3 linked regions of the Homo sapiens genome follow. The protein of the gene in region 1 interacts with the protein of each later gene in a pairwise test. Each region holds a gene or a part of one and is shown in the gene's direction. Other genes may lie near its edges.

Evidence for each region. The genes of interacting proteins can lie anywhere in the genome.
Region 2: the proteins of PRKAA1 (region 1) and RBPMS interact in binary tests that used the Homo sapiens proteins (3 or more experiments, as listed by UniProt).
Region 3: the proteins of PRKAA1 (region 1) and HMBOX1 interact in binary tests that used the Homo sapiens proteins (3 or more experiments, as listed by UniProt).

What each region holds. Positions count from the first base shown.
Region 1 is NC_000005.10:40,759,947-40,767,945, reverse strand, and holds part of PRKAA1 (5'-AMP-activated protein kinase catalytic subunit alpha-1), read left to right. Parts: intron 1-255; coding exon 256-480; intron 481-2,707; coding exon 2,708-3,194; intron 3,195-3,305; coding exon 3,306-3,432; intron 3,433-3,478; exon of another isoform or gene 3,479-4,923; coding exon 4,924-5,168; 3' UTR 5,169-7,999. UniProt on the Homo sapiens protein: Catalytic subunit of AMP-activated protein kinase (AMPK), an energy sensor protein kinase that plays a key role in regulating cellular energy metabolism.
Region 2 is NC_000008.11:30,380,455-30,388,322, forward strand, and holds the start of RBPMS (RNA-binding protein with multiple splicing), read left to right. Parts: upstream 1-4,086; 5' UTR 4,087-4,638; coding exon 4,639-4,704; exon of another isoform or gene 4,705-4,947; intron 4,948-7,868.
Region 3 is NC_000008.11:28,963,178-28,971,176, forward strand, and holds part of HMBOX1 (homeobox-containing protein 1), read left to right. Parts: intron 1-633; 5' UTR 634-690; coding exon 691-713; intron 714-6,865; coding exon 6,866-7,342; intron 7,343-7,999. UniProt on the Homo sapiens protein: Binds directly to 5'-TTAGGG-3' repeats in telomeric DNA. Associates with the telomerase complex at sites of active telomere processing and positively regulates telomere elongation.

The sequences.
Region 1 (7,999 bases):
CCCTATTGTCAGATCCCATCAGGGCCATAGTAAATAGTAGAACAGAATTTTAGCCATGGTGTGTAATTTACAAACTTCTTGACTTTTGTTTTCAAAGATAATACTGATGGAATTAACGTTGTAACATGTAGTAGTGGCTATAAAAACCATATTCTGCTTAAGAATTCTTTATGAAATATCCATATTTGAAGTTTTTGATGAACTGAATCTTAGGTTAAAATGATTCTTTAATCCAATTGTTATTTCCTGTTACAGATTGTATGCAGGCCCAGAGGTAGATATATGGAGCAGTGGGGTTATTCTCTATGCTTTATTATGTGGAACCCTTCCATTTGATGATGACCATGTGCCAACTCTTTTTAAGAAGATATGTGATGGGATCTTCTATACCCCTCAATATTTAAATCCTTCTGTGATTAGCCTTTTGAAACATATGCTGCAGGTGGATCCCATGAAGAGGGCCACAATCAAAGATATCAGGTAATAAAGCAGTTTGGAAGTTATCAGATCTGATAGTATCCATGATAAAAGTTATGTGAAAAAAAAAAAGTTGCAGAACAGAATATACAGTGTAATCCTGTTTTTATGTGAAAAAAATAGAGTGTATAGACACATTTATTTTATTTTGTTATTAGAAATACATAGTAAACTGGTTACCTTAGGGAAGTAAGATTCGTAAGAGGGAGGGCTTTCACTTTTTACTTACACATCTTTGTTTTGAAATTTTTACAGTGAACATCATATTACTTTTTAAATTAACAAAAAAGCTAATGAAAGATTGGTGCTGTGGCTCACACCTGTAATTCCAGCACTTTGGGAAGCTGAGGAAAGAGGATCATGTGAGCTCAGGAGTTTGAGACCAGCCTGGGTAACATAGCGAGGCCCCATATATATGTATATCTTTTATTTTTATTTATTTATTTTTTTTGAGACAAGGTTTTGCTCTGTCACCCAGCCTGGAGTGCAGTGGTGTGATCATAGCTCACTGTAGCCAGTAACTCCTGGGTCAAGTGATCCTCCCACTTTAGCCTCCCTAGTAGTTGAGACTACAGGCATCCACCATCATGCCTGGCTGTTTTTTGTTGTTATTGTTTTGCTTTTTGTTTTTGTTTGTAGTGACAGGTCTTGCTATTTTTGCCCAGGCTGGTCTTGAACTCCTGGCCTCAAGTGATCCTTGTGCCTTTCCCTCCCAGTGTTGGGATTACAGGTGTGAGCCAGTATGCCTGGCGTTAGGATTAATACTTTTCAGTAGTAAATTTGTGGGTGGCTATTTTATTTCTTATCTCATGAATTATTGTATTTTTTTTCTTTTTTTAATCCCAAGGAATGAGATTTAATTGACATGTTTTTCCTGGTAGTATACATTGAATTACATGCAAAATTCCTGTTTTGTAGGTAAAAGTCAGTATAACCAGTTTCATCTGGTTCAACCTAATAGTTTAAATTAGACAAAAATGACGATGACAAATTTTCTTCTCAAATTAGAGTGAGCCATTTCTGATGAAGACTTAAACAATTTTATTGCAAGCCTTGTTTCTTTTTTTTCCCCCCTGTGGAAATTTTGGTCCTTTTGGTCTTCTAATGGCTAGACTGCACATTTATCTGAGAAGGAAGAAAGAAATCAGATATGGATCTAGGAATAGTAAATATGAAAGCATTAGTATAATGAAGAAGAAGGAAAGATTATATGTGGAACTTGAAGCTTGATTACTTTCCACTTACTACACGTTTTAGACTAGCTAAAAAAGAGACCATGAATGGCACGGCATGATTTTATCACCAAAGGGAAAGGACAAATCATTCTCTAAAATTTATATTTTAAGATATCTAGGTAAGAAATGTTTTTGTTTGTATTTTACCTATTTTCTTCCAATTAAAATATAATACATGACAATTGAAAAAACTTAGAAAAACACCAACAATAGAGAAGAGAATAAAAAATTATCTTTAATCCCATGACCCAGAAGATAACCATTGTTCTTTTCTTGTTTTTTTTTTCGTCTCTGGATTTTATTTAGTTTTAGCAAAGTGACATAGTTCAGGTCAAACATATTCTTAAATATACGAAGTTAGGGAATTAGAATAGGAAATCATTCAGGGCATGGCCTTTCCAGTCACACAGAACTGGGTCATAATCCTGGTTCTGTCACTTACTGTCTTTGTGACCTTGAGCATGTTCCTTGATTTTTTTTTTAACCTCAATTCCTTCATTTAAAACAAAGAGATATTATCTTCATATAATTGTTTCGATGATGAGGGGAGATAGTGTATATGAAGTGTTTAGCATAAAACTTAGCATATAGTAAGTACTCAGTAGTTGTCTACTATTTTTCTTGTTGTTACATTATCTTCACTTAACATTATATCAAAAGAGTATTATAATGAAGCTACCTAATATGTTCTCTTTCTAAGCTGGAAATAAGCTGTTCTTTTCATTGTTTGTCGCTGTCATTTGTCCCATAACTTTTTTCCCCCCATTGCTGTGTCAATACATTCTCCCTCTTAAAACTGGAGGGAAATTGGAGCATTTCCCTCAACATACACAATGAAGTGCGAGCTAGAAGAGGAAAATTTCAGTGCAAAAAGTGACAATAATACAGTATGAATATAAATATAAATTAAGTCATATTCTAAATTCCCTAAACTGTTACTTTCAGTCTCAGCTCTATTCAAAGTCCTTCTCCTGATCCTGCCATTTTTCTCTCAGGGAACATGAATGGTTTAAACAGGACCTTCCAAAATATCTCTTTCCTGAGGATCCATCATATAGTTCAACCATGATTGATGATGAAGCCTTAAAAGAAGTATGTGAAAAGTTTGAGTGCTCAGAAGAGGAAGTTCTCAGCTGTCTTTACAACAGAAATCACCAGGATCCTTTGGCAGTTGCCTACCATCTCATAATAGATAACAGGAGAATAATGAATGAAGCCAAAGATTTCTATTTGGCGACAAGCCCACCTGATTCTTTTCTTGATGATCATCACCTGACTCGGCCCCATCCTGAAAGAGTACCATTCTTGGTTGCTGAAACACCAAGGGCACGCCATACCCTTGATGAATTAAATCCACAGAAATCCAAACACCAAGGTGTAAGGAAAGCAAAATGGCATTTAGGAATTAGAAGTCAAAGTCGACCAAATGATATTATGGCAGAAGTATGTAGAGCAATCAAACAATTGGATTATGAATGGAAGGTAAGAAAGAAATAACATTTTGATTATTAGCATATTTGGCAAACCCATAGTCTATAAAATGTTTTATAGAAGAATTACTTTTGACTTGGTTTTTGTTATACCATGTGCTAGGTTGTAAACCCATATTATTTGCGTGTACGAAGGAAGAATCCTGTGACAAGCACTTACTCCAAAATGAGTCTACAGTTATACCAAGTGGATAGTAGAACTTATCTACTGGATTTCCGTAGTATTGATGGTATGTACATCACACAAAACAACATAGATTAGACCTTGTTACTAACTTGGTATTTTACGCCTTGATTCTTTTGAGGCTTCTTGACTTGTTCCTAGTAATTCAACTGCAAAGGAATAAAAAATGTGATTTCTTGTGCCTTTGCAATATTAACATTTATGAATCTTATTTTTCTTGTAATCTTATAGCATATTGTCCTTTTAAGATTATCATCTTGTAAAATCCTTAAAGCCAGGTGTAGTCTGATCCTAAGGTGATAGTTTTCTGCTGCATTTGTTTTTTTGGTGTAGTTCATTTTGATAAGAGACAATGTTTTATTTAGAAATAAATATTGACTCTTCTGTAAGCTTTTATTTATTATTAAATAAGTTTTCAGTTAAGAATGAAGTTATGGCAATTCTTCATTGGCCAATTCAATTGCATTAAGCTACGCTGTTGAGTGCAGGTGTGGTGGCTTATGCCTGTAAACAGCCCAGCACTTTGGGAGGCTGAGGTGGGAGGATGGCTTGAGCCCAGGAATTTGAGACCAGCCTTAGCAACATACTGAGACTCTGTCTTTACAAAATATTAAAATATATATATATAGTATCACCTTTGCTTATGGAAGGTTGCATAGAATTATTAGATGAGGTTCACGTTTGAATTTTTTTCTTCTTTATAAACTCAAAGATAGTACACACATAGTAGCAGAAAGACACAGGTTTGAGCCATGATATGTTGGCCAAACCAGTTTGTCTGGTTATCTTTAGGTCCATATAGTACGTATCTGCTAACATATACTAATGCAGTCTGAAATACGGAATGAGTTTTATTTTTCTTGTATTTGGATCAAATTTGCAACCTTAGATTTACTAGTACTGGGGTATACCAATTGAATGCCCATTTTGTTTTTGTACTGTGTTCCCAACCTTAGTTTTTCTTCGATTTTTATTCATTGGAATTGTTGCTCTTTTATGAAATACTAAATGAAATATGAAGGGAAAGTGGAAAGTAAAAAGCACTGAGCTGAGACTTAGGAGAGTTGGGTTCTAGACTTACCTTTCTGTTCATTTGTTACCTTGGGCAAGTCATTTCTCTGGGTTTGTTTTCTTATCAATAAAGTGAGGGGCTGGATGAGATGGTTTCCAGTATACCCTCCAAATTTTAAGTGCATCGATTCTATGATTTTAATATAGAGGGATTACTTTTTATTGCTATAGAATAATATTTATTAATCCCTAGATTGTTGGTTTACTGGGCTCTTAACCTTGGATTGCAACTGATGAGTAGCTATACTGTACCCAACTTTGGTTAGCTATCTTGAGAATACATACTATATGTAAAAAAGATGAATAGTTTAATACAGGCTCATTGACTGTTTTAGAAGGTATTTAGAATAAGCGTGCTCTTGATAGCTGGCCAGCAGCCCCACTTAAAGAAGCAAATTCAATACTGTTACAAAAATTTTTGGGAGAAGGTCATAGACTATAATAAATTGAAATTCTTTTTACCCAGATGAAATTACAGAAGCCAAATCAGGGACTGCTACTCCACAGAGATCGGGATCAGTTAGCAACTATCGATCTTGCCAAAGGAGTGATTCAGATGCTGAGGCTCAAGGAAAATCCTCAGAAGTTTCTCTTACCTCATCTGTGACCTCACTTGACTCTTCTCCTGTTGACCTAACTCCAAGACCTGGAAGTCACACAATAGAATTTTTTGAGATGTGTGCAAATCTAATTAAAATTCTTGCACAATAAACAGAAAACTTTGCTTATTTCTTTTGCAGCAATAAGCATGCATAATAAGTCACAGCCAAATGCTTCCATTTGTAATCAAGTTATACATAATTATAACCGAGGGCTGGCGTTTTGGAATGCAATTTGCACAGGGATTGGAACATGATTTATAGTTAAAAGCCTAATATGCAGAAATGAATTAAGATCATTTTGTTGTTCATTGTGCAGTATGTATATAGCATAATATACACAGTGAATTATAGGTCTCAGGCTTACTTGATTTTTGGCTATTTTATATTTAGTGTACACAGGGCTTTGAAATATTAATTTACATAAAGGCCTTCATATATTATTACGTGTTATATATTACGTGTTATAAATTTATTCAATAAATATTTGCCTAGAATTCCCAAGACCTTTATAGGTGATTTTGTTTTCTGGGCTCCTTAACTTCATAAATAGCTAGTATCTTCCAGCAGTAGTAACAGTCTGGATAACTTCTTCCATATCCCTCCCTCTTTGTTTTTTTGAGACAGTGTCACTTTGTCACCCAGGCTGGAGTGCAATGGTGTGGTCTCGGCTCACTGCAACCTCCACCTCCCGGGTTCAAGTGATTCTCCCGCCTCAGCTTCCTGAGTAGCTGGAACTACAGGCGTGTGCCACCACACCCGGCTAATTTTTCGTATTTTTAGTGTAGACGGGGTTTCACTATGTTGCCCAGGCTGGTCTCGAACTCCTGACCGCGTGATCCACCACCTCAGCTTCCCAAAGTGGTGGGATTACAGGCGTGAGCCACCGCACCCGGCCTCCATATCCCCCTTTTAAAATTCTGTAGTGTATGGTAAGTCATATCAGATATCAGACCTAATTTAAATTTCATTTTAGCTTTACAAGTCCAAAAACACAGAATTTATATATTCAGATACTCTAGCACTAATTTTAGTCTTAAAATATTCCCACGATATTCTGTACACAAAATGTTCTTTTTGTTACAAGAGCTGAGTTGCATATACTGTAGATAAATCATATTATTTTTGCCAATTTCACAAATTCCTCTGGCCCATCATGTCAGTCATTATTGAGTATATGCACACATTGCTACTTATTTGATTATGTATCTTTTAAATTGATTCAGTGCATAGAAAACTATCTCTTACAAACTTTAAGTGCTCTGATATGACTTCCCCCCCAAATTTTATTATGAACATTTTTAAAAACAGAAAAATTGAAAAACTGTTTGGTAAGCACATGTATATCTACCATTTAGATTCAGCAGTTGTTAATGTTTTGTCATTTGTTTTCTCTATACCTATATATGTATAGATACAGCTAGTTATGCATATATATGCATATATGTGTTTGTTTGTGTATGTATATATGCTTTTTTCCCCCTGAACCATTTGGATGTTACAGACATACTTATCACCGTGAAAATACTTCAAGTATCTCCTACAGATAATGACATTCTCCTAAAAATCCGTAATACCATTGTAAAAGTAATAATTCCCCAATATCATCTAATCAAGCCATATTTAAATTTCTGAAGTTAACTCCAAATTTCTTTATAGCTGATTATTTCAAACTAGGATCCAATTAAAGTTTACATATGACACTTGGTTATAACTCTTTAGTTGGATATAACATTATTATTATTTTGATAAAATATGGAACAAATCAATTCTATTAATAAGTGGTCACATTTGTTTTGGGCTTAAATTACTTTTTAAAGATACTGGATTTTCCTAAGATTTCTGATTTACACTGATATTTTTTTTTGTCATTCTTAATTGCATCACACAATAGATGTAAATGAAGATGTAGTCACCTCAGATAAAATTGGTATCGTGTATGATAATATTGTATCATTTATATTTGCCTTATGTTAACTTTAAGAAATTGATTTTTTTGTATTAATCATTTTCCCATTGCAACAGAGCTATATTTTTTCTATTTTAAGAATCATATTTTAGGATTATTTTTGGCAAATACAGTGAGCACTTATGTAACCAGATGATAATGAACTCAAATGTCATGATAGCTTGCATAAATGGTGACTCTAGTAGATTTGACTCAAGCACTTCTAGAATCATGCACTGAATTCAAAAGAAAAATCTTGCTGCTTTTTGTCCAGGGCTTGTTCTATTCAACTTCTAATTTGAAAGCTGTACAAAGTAATAGAAGTTCCATTTAAATATGAGTTCAAAACTGTATTTACTTTTTATGTGGCCCTCTCTTTAGGGGATTCTAATTTTACTTAGGGTCTCTAAGTGCAGCATAATGTTCCTGATGTTAACAGAAGACTGTATTTTTAAAGTTACAAATTTGTATATGGAATTAAGTAATGGCGCTATATACGCTGTTGTGGGGAGGGGGGAAGAAAAGGAGGAACCAATTAAATAGGACCTTTTAAAAATTGTTAATTTTGTAAACTTTGCTTCTCTTATAAGTTATTGTGATTCATTTTAGTTACTGTGTTTTATTTTGAAAATATTTAAATATTGCACTTCTATAAATAGTATGATAAATGCACAGACAATTGCAGTAAATTCTTTTTTAAGCTAGGATATTTGAAATGACAACCTTTGGTTAAGTGTGTCAAGGTTGCAACAGAATTTTCACAATTTTTTTGTTGTTTGCAAATTGTTACTAATATTGAAGAGGTAAGGGAGGCAATGCAAATGATTTTTAATCTTTTTTTATTATCTTTTCAGCAGTTTATATTTTTTGTGACTTTATGCAACCATATTTTTACTTTGTCTTGACAACTGAAAGATGTATAAGGTTTTTTGCCAGAAATGTACTGTATACATAGTTTTAAGTATAACAGATTTTACTGATATGTAAAAATTTTG
Region 2 (7,868 bases), on another chromosome or scaffold:
CTTTAAAGTCATAAACAAGCTGTAATTATCATTTATACCCTGATTGAAGGTACATTTTCCTCCCCCACACAAATTCAAACTCTTTGCCTTCAATCACAAAGTTTTATAAATAGCAAAAGTCTGTTTACAGATTTTCCTTGAGTTTTATTGGTAATACATTATTGCTCTTTCAAATAACTCTAAACTACTCTTCATGAAAAGGATAAAAAGCAGGAAATCTCCCTTTTCTTGACATATTATCCCAACCCCATATGTTTTTCTGAAAACACCCTGAATGTCACTCTCACCACTGACTATATAGTATAGCCATCCCTGCATCAGTGTCGATTTTATTGTCTGATATGTCAAATTCAATGGTGTGATTTTTTTTTTTTTTTGAGATGGAGTCTCCCTGTCGCCCAGGCTGGAGTACAGTGGTGTGATCTGGTTCACAGCAATCTCTGCCTCCCGGGTTCAAGCGATTCTCCTGCCTCAGCCTCCCGAGTAGCTGGGACTACAGGCACCCACCACCACGCCTGGCTAATTTTTGTATTTTCAAAAATGGGGTTTCACCATGCCAGGCTGGTCTCAAACTCCTGACCTCAGGTGATCTGCCCGCCTTGGCCTCCCAAAGTGCTAGGATTACAGGCATGAGGCACTGTGCCCGGCCTCAATGGTGGGATTTTATCTTTTACTGTTTGAAACCTTATCAGTTGTTCCATTCTGCACAAGGTCTCTATCTAGGGTCCCCCCTGCAAAATCATGACTAAAGACCACTGCCAGGCCGGTGGCTCATGCCTGTAATCCCAGCATTTTGGGAGGCTGAGGTGGGTGGATCACCTGAGTTTGGGAGTTCAATACCAACCAGCCTGGCCAACATGAGGAAACCCTGTCTCTACTAAAAATACAAAAACATTAGCCAGGTGTGGTTGTGTGCACCTGTAGTCCCAGCTACTGGGGAAGCTGAGGCAGGAGAATTGCTTGAACAGTTCTCGCCTGGGTGAGACATTTGCTTAAACAATGTCACCTGGGCCACAGAGCGAGACTCTCAGAAAACAAAAAACAAAACAAAAAAAAACACTGCCAAGACCCTGCCTAATGCCATTGCTGTGACTATCTGTTCTAAGACATCTCCACTGATTTAGTCCTTCCTGCTGGATCTTGGAAAAATCCAGTAATAACATTCAGGCCTGAGAATCAGTAACCCATCAGACTTAAAATGCTCATTTATTAAAAAATAACTGAGCGCCTCCTATGTGTTGGGCACTGTCTAGATGCTGGGAATACAACAGTGAATAAGCCAGACAAGGATCCTCTCCTGGAACTTATTTTTTTTTGTGACAGAGTTTCACTCTTGTTGCCCAAGCTGGAGTGCAATGGTGCAATCTCGGCTAACTGCAACCTCTGCCTCCCGGGTTCAAGCAATTCTCCTGCCTCAGCCTCCCAAGTAGCTGCTATTATAGGCGTGCGCCACCACACCCAGCTAATTTTTTGTATTTTTAGTAGAAACGGTGTTTCACCATGTTAGCCAGGCTGGTCTTGAACTCCTGACATCAGGTGTTGGGCTCACCTCGGCCTCCCAAAGTGCTGGGATTACAGGCATGAGCCACCGTGCCCCGCCTGGAACTTATTTTTGTTTCTTATCCCAGAGATTTTTGACTTTTAACAATGGACAAAGTCCTGGCTTGGCTTAAAGACAAAGAAATCAGATTCTTTATTTGGAATTAAGCCATGCTTCCCTGGGTGGGGATAGGAGAGGTTCTCCGGGCATCCTGATATCACACAACATAGTTCACCTGCTCCTAAGTGAGGTCTGAGTGGAACTATTGACTACATTGTCATTTTTGTTGGGCCCATGCCGGGATCCAAGAAGACCATGCCCTTCTGTGGAGTATGCTCCATGACAGGCAAGAATGGCCAAAGACACAGTGCTAGCATCATGGGCCACCACGGGGTCCTAAGACCACCACTCAGCTATTATTGCTCGGGAAGACATTGCCCCCTCGTGGTTCCTCATGTAATTGAGGGAAGCTGGCAGTGCAAAGAGCTGCCAGTTAAGGCAATCAATACATCCAAACACGTGCAAAGTTTCCACATTCACTGTAGCCTTATCTCTTCTGAATGTCTTGGGTTGCAGTTTCAAGAGTTGGTTTATTTTCATCCAGGATACATGTTTGTTCCCCTTAGAGAGAAATCACATTATGACAGCAATTAAAAAAACATGTTTTCCTTATGGAAATCTTCCTGTTTCAAAATCTCCAAACCCCCAAGATAAATCCAATATGTAAATCCAAGTATCACTACTGTTTTTCTCCTCATAATGCCCTTAAAGCAAATATTTTCCTTGCTTTCTATAATCGGAAAGAGGATTCTGAGAGTATCTTGGCTCCATACCACTTTATTTTTTTGTCTTTTCTTTTTTTCCCCTCTGTGGAGAACAGAGTCTCACTATGTTGCCCAGGCAGGTCTTGAACTCCTGGGCTCAAGCAATCCTCTTTCCTCTATCTCCTTAAGTGCTGAGATTCCAAGTGTGAGCCACCATACCACTTTAAACTCCCTAAAGGGAGGGTCCTTATCTGCAACTCCCACAGCCACCCCCGCCCTATCCCCAGCAGCACTTAAACCAAGTATAAAGAATGTCTGGTGGGGGTGGGGAGAAACAGTTAAGCAAATACTGTAGTTGGAAACTGTTACCGGTGCAAGACAGGAGCAGCAGGCTGGGATGGAGAATTCCTGGGAGGAAGAAGTGGGGCAGAACCCACTGATATATGGAGTTCCACATTTATACCTTTGTAGCAGTCAAATCTAAGAGTTTAACACGGTGGCTCCACGTTGTAATCCCATCAGTTTGGGAGGCCAAAAGCAGGAGGATCACTTGAGGCCAGGAGCTCGAGCTCAGCCTGAGCAACAAAGTGAGACCCTCATTTTTCTAAAAAAAAAAAAAACCAAAAAACCATAAGCTTAAATGATCGAGTATTGGAAACGCTTTCTAAGGCCCTGGAAAAATAGAAGTTTTCTTAATAATAATGTTAGCTTCCATGTATTGTAAACCTAAACGAAGCAAGAATAAATGCTGGGTGCTGTATATAGCTCTATCAACCTATAATCACCTCGAAAACTCGAGGAGACACATTCAGCTGCTCCCATTTCACGGATGAGGAAACAAGTACGCAATCCTGAAGCTGGTGCAAAGCCCAGGCCCCCTTTCTTTTTCAAGCGTGCTTCCAGCCTCTGAAGTTCCTCCGTACGGACCCCCAGCTCTGCCTGCAATAAGGAATATTCACTTTGCCAACAAATATTTATTGAGTGCCTGCTATATACCCCTTAGCCCGTTTAAATAGCCGTGGGATTAAAAAGATAAATAGGGCAGGATTTTTTTTTTTCTTCCAGGAAGGAGCTTTCTGAAGGGTGAGGGAGAGGCCAGGTAAACAATCCCAGAACAGTCTGGTGAGAGTTGGGAGAGGAGTCGGGGGGCCGCGGGACGCTCAGGAAGCGAAGCGGGGAAGGCTCCGGGCGCGTCGCAGGACCCGCGCTGGAGATGGGTTTGAAGCCCTGTCCTGAAAAAGCCGGCCCGGAGTGGGCTGTCCCCGGTGTCCCTCGAGTTCTCATGCTGTCATTCAAGCAGCAGAGGAAGAACCGGGTCTGGCTCGGGAAGGGTGGGCTTAGGGCCAGGGGTGCAAATCCCTCGGTAAAAGCCGGCAAACTAAAAGTCGCACACATCCCAGGTCCCGGTCCAGGCCCCGGCGGGGCAGGGTCCCCGAAGTCCCGGGGCGCGCAGACGCCGGGGCCCCCGGGGGCCAAGGGAACGGCGGGACCCGACCTCCCTGCCCTCGGCCTCCCGGGCCCTCGCCCTCCGACCAGCCGCTGAGTCGGGGGCTGGGGTCGCCGCTTCCGCCCGCGGCCCGCTGCCCCTCCCCGGCGCGCGCCATCCGGCCGCCGGCCCCTCCTCCCGCGGGGGGCTCCGTCCCGCGCCCCGTCCCTCCGGGCTGCAGCCGGCAGCCCACGTCCAGGGAGGGCGGAGGGAGGAGGAGAGGCGCGGAGAGGAGGGAGGGGAGAGGGGAGGGAGGAAGGCGAGAGAAAGGGAGCTGCTTCCATCCCGGACTTCCCAGAGCCTGCCTGGAGCGCGTACTCAGCGGCTCTCGGGTCCCAGCGTCCCAGCCGCGGCCCGCGCTCCTCCGCCCCGCTCCTCCTCCTCCTCTTCCTCCTCCTCCTCCTCTCTAGGCACCCCCGTCCCCTCCTTCCAGCGGCTGCAGCCCCCAGCCCCAACTCTCCGCGCTTACTCCTGGGACGCGCGTCCTCGCCCCATCCTTTGCTTCCTTCCTTCCTTCCTTCTTCCTTCCTCCCCTGGCTCCCGCCCTCCCTCTCCAGGTCGCCCTCCCGGGGCCCGATTGTCTCGGTGCCCCGCTCCCGGCCCGCGCCCTGCCCCGTCTCTCCCTTGCACTTCCTGAGTCGCCCGCCGCCGCCGTCGCAGACTCGCCGCGGGAGCCCCAGCCCAACCCGAGCCCGACAGCCACTGCCCCGGCTCCAGCTCCAGCCCCACAGCCCGCGGCGCCCGCCCGAGGGAGCCCCGGCGCCCGGGGAAGGCTCCAGTGGGCTAGCGCGCCCTCGCCCAGCCCCGCGCCCCAGCCCTGCCCGGCCCGGCGAGGAAGGACCGGGAAGATGAACAACGGCGGCAAAGCCGAGAAGGAGAACACCCCGAGCGAGGCCAACCTTCAGGAGGAGGAGGTACTGGGCGGCTCGGTGTGGTGGCGGGGGCGACGCGGGACCCAGTGCGGGCGGCCGGCGGGGCGCGGGCCCGGGGCGCGGCGGTGGAAGAAGGTTCAGGCATGGCCCGTGCCCCGGACGCAGCCCCACAGTGTGGCCCGGGGAGGGTGGATCTCGGGAGCGTGTGTTTTTGTGTCCACGCGCGTCTGCGGGCCCCAAATTGCGTAACTCCAAGGACTTTTCGGAGACTTTTGTAAGTATAATGCTCAGCTTTGTTTGCCCGGGATTTATAAGTGGAACCGAGAGCTGACTCCTGGGTGACCTCAGATAATCGGGACTCGGAGGGTCAGGACTTAGGGCCGGGGCTGGAAATTGTGTATGGATTCAGGGTCGGGGGGGGAGCAGTTTAAGGAAGAAACTCGGGGGAAAGTTCTCGTTAAAAGATACCTCTATTCCCTGCCCCCTCCCTTTCCGTGTTAAAAGTTCTTGGTGAAATATCTTTCTAGCCGAGGTTTTTTGGATTAATAGATAACTCATCAGCCACATTCTTCTCTGCTGAGTCAAAGACCCCGAGCCTGGGCGGTGAACGCTTGTGATTTTAGGGGCCGTGCAGCTGAGGGGAGCAGAGTAAGAGGGTTAAAAACGCAGCAATTCACCAAATGCTCATCGAGGGTATTTTCATAGGACTTTGACTTCTGAGCATGCATTTTAGGTGGTGCGTCCGTAATCATGATGAAAGTTTTGTGACTGCGGAGCGTTCCTTCGGTGGAAACAAAATTGAGTAGATGTGGTCAGAAGGGGAGTCGGACTCAGGAACAAACGTTTCAGAATTCAGTAGGATATTTGTGGTATCCTACCAAATGACTCTTTTTGCAGGTACGTTATCTGGAGTCCAAGAAATTATTTCTGGCGTACTTCTTAACATCCCACACAGTTGAGTTCTTAAACATTCTAGAGGAACTTGAGAGTGTGTGTAGATGCAGGAAAGTGCACGTCTAAATATGACCCGAAAAGATTCACACAGGTATTGGATCCTGATATAGGTGAACACAGAAGGTAAACGGATTCTAAAGCGTTAGAATGTTGAGATCATTGTTGAGACACTATGTTGTGTGCAAACTTCAATTCTGATAGTGAAACCAAAATTGCAGAGGAATTCATTAATACATACAACTTCTCTGCACATTGTCCACTTGGAAAATGGTAACTATTTAGATGGAGAAGGTAGAGGAGCGAGACTATGCCAAACAATGCAAAATAAATAGGAGATTTTACTCGTCACCCAGTTGTATGGTAGTGAAAACCTAAATGAATTGCAGTCAGCCAAAAATTGCTTTTTCACCCGAGGACATTTTCTATTTTATTATAAAAGACTATTTGAAGAGTTGTTTACTTGCATGTTTTCTAATTACAATTGTAGGAATGCTACTGGCATTTCTTTTTTCAAAGCGATGGAGAGTTGAATGGTGTGTTCTGATTTTTTTTCTTGAACTTTACTGGCTGCTTTGCTATTTATTTTCCCTACCACTTAAAAAAATTTAAAAATAATGACAAGTGTGCTTTTTTAGGAATTACCATATTTAACTAATTCACTTACCATATCAAGATAATCATCGCTTCAGAAATCTTTCTGTTTCAGCTAGATGTGCAATCTGTTTGCTTCTCAGGGTTAGAATATTATATGAAACCATCTTTCTTTATTCACCCAGTTGAGAAAACTTTTTTTTTTCCTTTTGGTAGGTAGCAAAAGAGGTTCAATGTCCTAAAAATCATACCCACATTAAAATTAAGTATAGAAAAGTCACATTTTTCTGCTTGACCCCTCTTAACAGCTGCCAGGACCAAGGGATTGCCTGCCCTGTTCCTGGACGCTCCTCCGTCCTTGTGAGGTTGTGTATAATAATCGCTGTATAATCGCGGGCCATTGCAGTACAGTTGCTGCCTCTTACTTGTCCTGTTATCTGACAGCGTTCCTTTTCAGGTAGGAATGGCATGTGGCTCTAGAAAGTATCGGTCTTTTTAGCAAAACACTTGTTATGTAAAAAGTAAGGGGACACGTAGGAAGATTTCAGAACCCAAGTTGTCCAAGAGAGATGTCGTGTACAAAACAGTTAAGACCGTGAAGAGAGGGGGGTTTATAATGTCAGAAATTGAGGAAAAGAAACTAAGGTGGCCTGAATGATCCAGGTAATTTTGCCTTAATTTCCTATTTTTGGTTTATATTTTGTTCTTGAAAAACTCTTAACCTCTTTTTTGTTTTTTTCTTTCTAACCCTGAAAGCCACAGGTAAAATAAATAGAGTATTAGGTGAGTGCCATTAATGTGCCCGGCATTACACAAAACCACTGCACTGACCCTTTCCCTGCCCACCCATTGTATCAGCAACTTGCTCTTAAGCACATTTAAAAACCTTGGCGGTGGACTCCAGTAAACAGAACACACACATACAACATAGATATATACACGTAATGACGAGAGGAAAAATGTGTTTCGTTGTAATTTCTGGTAGCCATTGAACTGACATGGAAAAATGAGTCCAATCATCATTAAGGGAAAATAGTTTATTTCACAGATCATGAGGGTGGTTTGGGCTTTCTCCACATTGTAGAACCCAAGTTTGTTTTTTTCTGTGTTTCTAGTTTCGAAACGAATTCCTTCTATCAATCAGTGTATTTTAGCTTCTTTTGAGAGTTTCTAATGCTTACCCTGAAATAATTGTGCTGAAATGCCTCTTTGGTTCTAATTGTGTAGAATGAACAGTTCAGGATCTAGGAGTATTTTTGCAGCTTTTTAGGGTTGGAAGTTTTTGAGAACTTTGGCAGAACATGTATTAATACTTCTACTTTGGATAGCATTGAAAACTTTGAGGAAAAATAATTTAGGATTTGGCTAGCCAGTTGTGTAAGAGAGATGATACATTTAACTTTCCGATTTTTAATGTATTATTACATTAAATACATGTGTAATACACGTACAATGTATTATACATGTGTGTTCCCTAAGCAAGTTGTCCTGTAAAGACTAACCAGTTGTCAAAATCTCACTGAGATTTTTAAGGTTTGTTTATATATGTTTAGAGTATCATGTCATTTCTTATATTTTACAATTGATAAAATGATTCCTAGAATTTCTCTAATTGTGCAATCAAACTTTATAAAAATTGATATATAATAGATCCATAATTA
Region 3 (7,999 bases), on another chromosome or scaffold:
TTCGCCATGTTGGTCAGGCTGGTCTCGAACTCCTGACTTCAGGTGATCCACCCGCCTCAGCCTCCTAAAGTGCTGGGATTACAGGCATGAGCCACCACGCCTGGCCTGTTTTTAAGTCAACAAGAAAATTATCTACAACAGGAACTTCATTAGTGCTACAGTTTAGAATATACAAATATGAAAGGTTTCTAACTTTACCTTGTACATTTTGCATATATCATTAGTCATTGTTGGACACTTTGGCCATGCTTAATATAATTCAGTACTGAATATGTATTTCAATGTGAGAGTTTTTGACATCAACATTTTTAACTTTTGTCTAATTTATAATCTTAGAGTTAATGGAAATCAGTGCCTCTATAACTATGGTTTTAACCAGCTAATAAGTTGTCTTCATGATCTTTAGCTTCTAAACAATGAATAGTAGATACCATTTTTTGTTAAGATCTGTGTCTGAATTGAAAGGGATCAAAGTGTATGGTGAATAAAGCAGTAGAATGCAAATCAGAAGATATAATATTTAACATGATTAGCTAGTGTTAACTCTTGCTGTCCATCAGTTACATAATTAAAATTTTTATTCAGCACTTGATTAACATAAATGTTTCTCAATTTTCTATCTTTGTTCTACAGAATGGTAGATAACGCAGATCATCTCTGGAAAGGATATTGATCCGCCTCATGTAAAGTATGCTTAGTTCCTTTCCAGTGGTGTAAGTATCAAGTCCTTTTTGATTTTTATCTTCACAATCATTTTAGTAAAGTTAAGATGTCACTATGATTATGATCCAGATTTGACAACAGACGTTTGTAGAGTTGAAAAGCTTTTTTAGAAAATGAATCAAATGTTATACCTATTTGACATTAAGGTGAATAAGTGTCATGATCATGTGGTGAGAAATGAATTTTTAAATCTATCAGCCTTCTCTTACCATTTCTGTTTTCAACTTTGAATTTTAACATTAATTTTAAATTGAATATAAAATTAATTATTATTTTTAACTGCTTAAAGCTTAGAAGCATCCAAGATAGATGACTAACAGTTCAAGAGAGCTAATATTAGATTCCTTGTGACAAGCAGACTACTGGAAGCATACATCTTCATGTTGCCTTTTGTGTAAAAACTCCTAGCACCTTAACCATTTTCCTTTACCTGCTGGGGGCATGATGATGTAGTTAAGCCTATTAGCTGATGTGCTAGCCTTTCTTTGGAGTCAGGCAGAAAATACAAATTGAGATAGTGGTATTGTGTTGAGAGTGTTTTTGTGCTAGGATATGAACTATAACCACCAGTTCATATTAAATAGGCCTTTGAATAAAAGTATTCCGGGAATTTCAGATATTAGAGAAGACAGAGTATCTATTAGCTCATTAAGTGCATCTTTAGAGTCGAATGCAGAGTGCCTTTAGCATAAGTATTTTCTAAAATTTGATGGAGTCTCCACTTTGCTTAAATTCCTTCCGTTTTGGTTGACAGTTCTATAATACAGTAAGTAAACATTAAGAGAGATTTTCCTTATTATTTAGGCTTTTCATTATAGTTCCCCCACCCCCACCCCAGTAGATTCTATGATATAGTGAAAAGTTTCTGGAACAGACCTAGAAGATGTGAACTGTAGCCCGACTTTCTGCTAAGTAGCTATATCCTTGGGAAGGCACTTCACCTCTTTGGGCCTTAGTTTCCCTCCCCACTTTTTAAAAAAATTTATTTGCTAATGGCTATTTTCAATCTATCAGCCTTCTCTGTTACCATTTCTATTTTCAACTTTGAATTTTGACATTAATTTTAAATTGAATATAAAATTACTTATTATTTTTAACTGCTCAAAGCCTAGAAGTTTCTGAGATAGATGGCTAAGCATTCAGGAGAGTTAAGACGTCTAATGGCTATTGAAAATAGTAAGATGTCTAATAGTTACTGAAATGAATGTAAGCATCATGAAGCCATGAATTTTTGCCTGATTTGTTCCTTGTTGTGTCCTCTGTGCCTTGCACAGGATCTGTTACATAGTAGGCATTCAATAAATGTTACTTAAATGAATGATTTTTGTCTAAGTGATCTCCAGTTTTCTCATTCCACACCTAACTTATATCTCCCTTTATAAATGTGCATGTTTGTACTTGGATTTTTGTCACATATGGTAGAAATAAGATGATCAAAGTATGATTTCATGAATCACAGTGTTTATTGCCATACAAAGAGAATTTTTTCTTGGGTTCACAGTACTTAAAGATGGGGAGAGTAACATAGACAGACTTCACAGGGAATACACTCAATAGATGAGGTACATTAACCACATTATGAATGTGTTCCAAAGCTATTAAAGTGTCTTTGCTCAATTATGATGAAAGGAGGCCTCTGTGTTCAAGTGAAGGCTAAAGGTGGAGGTGTACCTTTACATGAGCAGTTCTTGGGAGAGGCTGGCTTGACCACCATAGCTGAGATCTGAGACCACAAGGAAGGCCCCTCAGTGCTAGAAAATGCTGGCCTGCAAGGTATAAAAGCTTTGAGGCCTGTTGCAGCCTGAGCTCTCTGGTTTTGGAGAAGCTGCTGACAGAGAGTAGCCCTGCCACAGCCTAAGCTCCCAAAGTGTCTGTTAAGCTCTTGAGTGTATATGTATTTTGAAGTCCAGTAGTTGTGACAGTAACTCACATATGCAGTTTGACATGAGGTGACATTCCTGAGAGGATGGAGAGTTCTCTCTCTGATAAAAATATTGTGATTGACCCTAGAGTGTGTTAAATTAGCATGCAGTAAATATCATGTATGCAAAACAAAACTAACCTATTTTGCCTAGTCATTCTAGATAATAAAAATAAAGACAGCAGAATTGAGCTGAAGAAAAAGCTGTTATCCAATAAAATTTTACTGTTGGTGCTTTACAAGTAAGATAGTAATGTCCTTTTTACCTCTGTGATTTCAAGATTAATTATTTGTGAATGCTTTAATCTTCTTTGCTCTACATGTTTGTAGAATTTAGCTTATGAAAGTATATTCTAGACCTCATGCCTTATCCAAGAAGGGTTTAGGTACATATTCAAGTCAGGATAAAATGTATTGTGAAAAGTTATTATTATGGTCTTATGGTATGATATTTTCTTAGAATATCAGTTTATGAACTGAGCCATAATTCCTGAATTTAATTGTTCTTTTATGCCTTAAACACTGTCTGTTATTACAGTGGTGAAATTCTTCTCACATCATTTTCAATTATTGTTGGCCTGAGTCTGCATTCAGATTAGTAATTTAAAGTGAAAGATGTTCCTTATCCTCTGAACAATCCTTGTGCATAAGAAAATTAATTCAATTCTTACATGTTATCTTTTTCTGTTATAAAAGAATTGCTGGTATCATGGACTTAGATGACCTTTGTAGGTCATTTACTGCCATAAATTCGTGATTATATGCTTAAACTAGGTAAATTATGAGAAATAAAATTGTGAAATGCCGGAGTATATGCCTTTGTTTATATTAATACACATTGGAACATTATTCTCAATATCCAGGAGAGCTTCTAGACTCAGCGTTTTCTCAGTAAAATATTGTATCTTCAGTGTCACATGCATGCTTTGATCCTGTTTGTTATGCTCTTAATCACTTTGCTTTGTAGTGATCATATGAATGATCATTCTAGCAATTGTGGATCATTTTGCTTTAGGTTATATTTGCATTAGGAAACTCTCAGTGCAGGGCACAGACATCTAATTTGAACAAGGTGATACATAAAGGGAAATGTATTCTCTGATGAAACAAAACAGCAAGAAGAGCAGGGATATATCAGGGGCTTAGGGATTATTGGAACAAGGGATGTGAGTGCTGCAGAGCTTTCTCCATCGCTCTGTTCCACGTTTCTTGGTATGTCTGCTTCTTCCTCCCATGAACTAGCTGCTTCCATATAATGAGGAATTTACCAGACTAATATCTTCCTGCAACTGAACACAGTTATGGTGACTGTTCATCTTTCCCCTCGTCTGACTAGAAAATTATGGGGAGAGCAAGGTTTGGCTTTCTTCTGTGCTCACCCCACTGGCCAGAAGGTGGGGTATTACGAGTGATAGCCCAAGAACATGTGCTTGGAAAGAATGAGGTGTTCTAAGCAGACAAAGTAAATAGGTGGCCTATTGTTTCTCCTTTTATGACTTGGAATAAAAGTGGTTCTAATAGTCAATGAATCTGAAATGACACAAAATATTAGATTGTTTCATATGCTGTGAAATCTTTAGTTTTGACAATTCTAATTCAAGTGTTAGGATGGATACTTTTCAGTAATAAGTGAAATTCATACAATTTACTTTTGCTTTATGCTAATACAGAGTGCTGCTCCATACAAGGAATGGTTTGAAGAACTGTATATAGATAACTAACTGCTCTGATATGAATACTATAGGAAAATACTATGATTGGGGATTTTTGTCCATATAATAAAACAGTTATTGAAGTCATCTAAAGTAAGATCACTTTATGAAATACTTTGATAACATGAAGACTGAAAATAGCAACAAACAGGTCTACTTCATTTTCAAGGGAAAATAATAATGTTTATGTTTAATTTTTTTCATTACAAAATATTGTGGGGGAACTTAGGCCATCAAGAAAGAATATAATAATCATGAAAATAGGTCTTTTTAAAATCATGGCTAACTTGTTACAAGTGAGTATTGGAAGAAATCAGACCCTAACATTTGTAGGTGTAGAGCAGATACTGTGGCCCATGGGCACAAATGGCCTGCAACATGTTTAGGTCCACAGAATGTGTGTGTTTGGTTTTGTTTTATTTTTATGAGCTTGTTTTAAAAACCAGGAAGATTTCATCTACAGTTCTAGATTTTTCCCTACTTATTTTTAAAAGGATTTGAAAGATAAAACAATCAGTGAAATGGAATAGACTATCCAAAGGTAATGCAGATTCATATGGAAATTGTGTATATGATAAAGGCAGCATTTCACATCGGAGGAGAAGACAGATATTCAGTAAAAACATACGACATCTAGCTGTCCATTTGGGATGAAATAAAGCCCCAATTTTTTATACTTGTTAAGTCAATAAAAATTCTAGATGGAGCAAGGATTTTAAATGTAGAAAACTATTACTAGGACCCCTAGGTTCATCAGTAATTAGAATAGTTTTATCTAAATGGCTTTAAATGAGACTTAAAGGAGTAGAATAGCCTGTGTGCCAAATCATATGTTTCCAGTTAAGTCCTGCAATGTATTGTAAAGGAGAATGATGTGTGCTTTTGGAGTCAATAAGATCTAGGCTTAAATCTTTTTCCTACTGTTTACTCAGATTTTTTGTGAAGTACAAAACTACACTGAGCTTTAGTTTCCTCAACAATCAATCCATCAACATAAAATGAAATGAATAAAGAACATCTACCATGGGGAGTTGCTGTGAGAATTGGATGAGATTATGTTATGTGAAATTCGTACCCAGTTCCTGCCTAGAAGTGACTGTTAATAAAGTTTTCATGTAGAAGGACAAAGAAACAGTGAGACCTTCAATAGCTATAGGACACTGGCCCAGAGCAGATGTTTGTTTGAGAAAGATGAAGAAATTTCTTGACATCTGTTTCCATCTGCAAACACTTATTGAGAGCCTACTGCATGCCATGCATTATATTTGGCACTAGAACAATAAATATCAAAATAGAAGAGATTACAACTTTAAAAAATCTTGAATGGAAAACTCAGGTCTTATAAGAAAGGAATTCAAGGCCGAGCATGGTGGCTCACACCTGTAATCCCAGCACTTTGGGAGGCCGAGGCGGGCGAATCACCTGAGGTCAGGAGTTTGAGATCAGCCTGGCCAACATGTTGAAACCCCATCTCTACTAAAAATATAAAAGTAGCCAGGCTTGGTGGCAGGTGCCTGTAATCCCAGCTACTCAGGAGGTTGAGGCAGGAGAATCGCTTGCACCCAGGAGGTGGAGGTTGCAGTGAGCCAAGACTGCGCCACTGCACTCCAGCCTGGTTGACAAGAGCAAAACTCTGTATCCAAAACAACAACAACAACAACAACAAAGGGATTCAAGCAGTGAGAATTTTTATAGTATTTGACTACTCCCTTAATATTGTTACTCACCCTAAGAAAACATTTTCTGATGTGCTGTAGTATCTTGTGCTAGTTAAAGGAAACATGTAAAAGTAATTTCCTAAGAAAAATGAATAGCATTGTTTGGCTACAACCATGAAAGATCTATTTCTCAGGGTAGCTATTAAGAGAGAATGCATTACCAGAGATGGAAAACTTAGGAAATTGCTAAGTAGTGAATGAAATGGTGCTTATTTTTTTTTTTAATGTACCTCTGTTTTCCACTTAAGTATTTTTGCTGGTTATTAGCATTTGCTTGGACTTAGCTTAGCAAATCATTTGTTCTCACTAAATGAGGTTGTAGAGAATTCCTAGGTCTGTTTAGCTAATATTTGGTAAATAATATAATACAAACTATTTTTTTCAGTAATTTTCCATTAATACTCTAATGTAGAGTAATACACTTGAGATGGGCAAAACACTTCTGAGTTATCACGTAGCCTGGGCTTATTGCACTCCATGTACCTAATCTATTGTTCTGGTATTATTTACATAACTAAAATTTTGGTTCTGATATTTACCAAAATTGAGGAAAATGTAAATTGTATGCCATATGAAATTAGGTTTTATGTTACACCTATGTTCACCTACTAATACATTTAGTATCTGTACCAATCCATTTGCCATGGCACAATCATTCTAGCATGGGACATACCTTCATTTTCAATACAGAAGCTTATGTAGAAATATTGCATCTTCTGAGCATTCTGTATAATATGTGCTTTGGTAGATACTGTCAATAAAGAGACTTCTTTTTATCTCTTTTTTTTTAGTTTGCTGGAAACCATGTCTCATTATACAGATGAACCCAGATTTACCATAGAGCAGATAGATCTGCTTCAGCGACTTCGGCGTACTGGAATGACTAAACATGAAATTCTCCATGCCTTGGAAACTTTGGACCGTCTTGATCAAGAGCATAGTGACAAGTTTGGAAGAAGGTCCAGCTATGGAGGAAGTTCATATGGGAATAGTACTAACAATGTCCCAGCATCTTCCTCTACAGCTACAGCTTCCACACAGACGCAGCATTCGGGAATGTCCCCGTCACCTAGCAACAGTTATGATACTTCCCCACAGCCTTGCACTACCAATCAAAATGGGAGGGAGAATAATGAGCGATTATCTACATCCAATGGAAAGATGTCACCAACTCGCTACCATGCAAACAGCATGGGTCAGAGGTCATACAGTTTTGAAGCCTCAGAAGAGGACCTAGATGTAGATGATAAAGTGGAAGAATTAATGAGGTTAGTGACTTTGCTTATTCAGAGTCCCTAAAAATGTCTGTATTCTTAGATTGTTTTTAAGTAGTATGCTGCGTTTCAGCTACTTAGCTATAAGAACTGTAACTTCCTCTAGCTATAAGAACTGTAACTTCCTCCTCCCACCTTTGGAGATGAAAGAAAGAAAGTTCAAGCTTTATGTTTTTAATTTAAATTTTCTCTTCTTTACTTCAGCCCTTTCTCTTTGCTGCTTGACAAGCCTTTTCCATTCTGTTTATCAAACACTAATCTTCTCTATGACTCTAATAGCTAATTTCTGACTAACAGACACATTCTAATCCTTAAAAATCTGTTGTAAGTACTTTTTCTGAGGGATAATTTTATCTTGATCAGAATATGTACACTCTTAATTTTTCTGTTCAACATTCCAATCAAGAAAATAATTTGGGGTACCTATTATATAGGTTCTAATTTTAGCAATAGATGACACACACACACACACACACACACACACACACACACACACACACACACATTGTCTTTTATAAGTGTAAGAACTTAGAGTTTTAAACACTGAGAAAAGAAATCTACTTTTTTTTTTTTTTTTTTTTTTGAGACAGAGTCTTGCTCTGTATGCCCAGGCTGGAGTGCAATGGCGTGATCTCGGCTCACCACAATCTC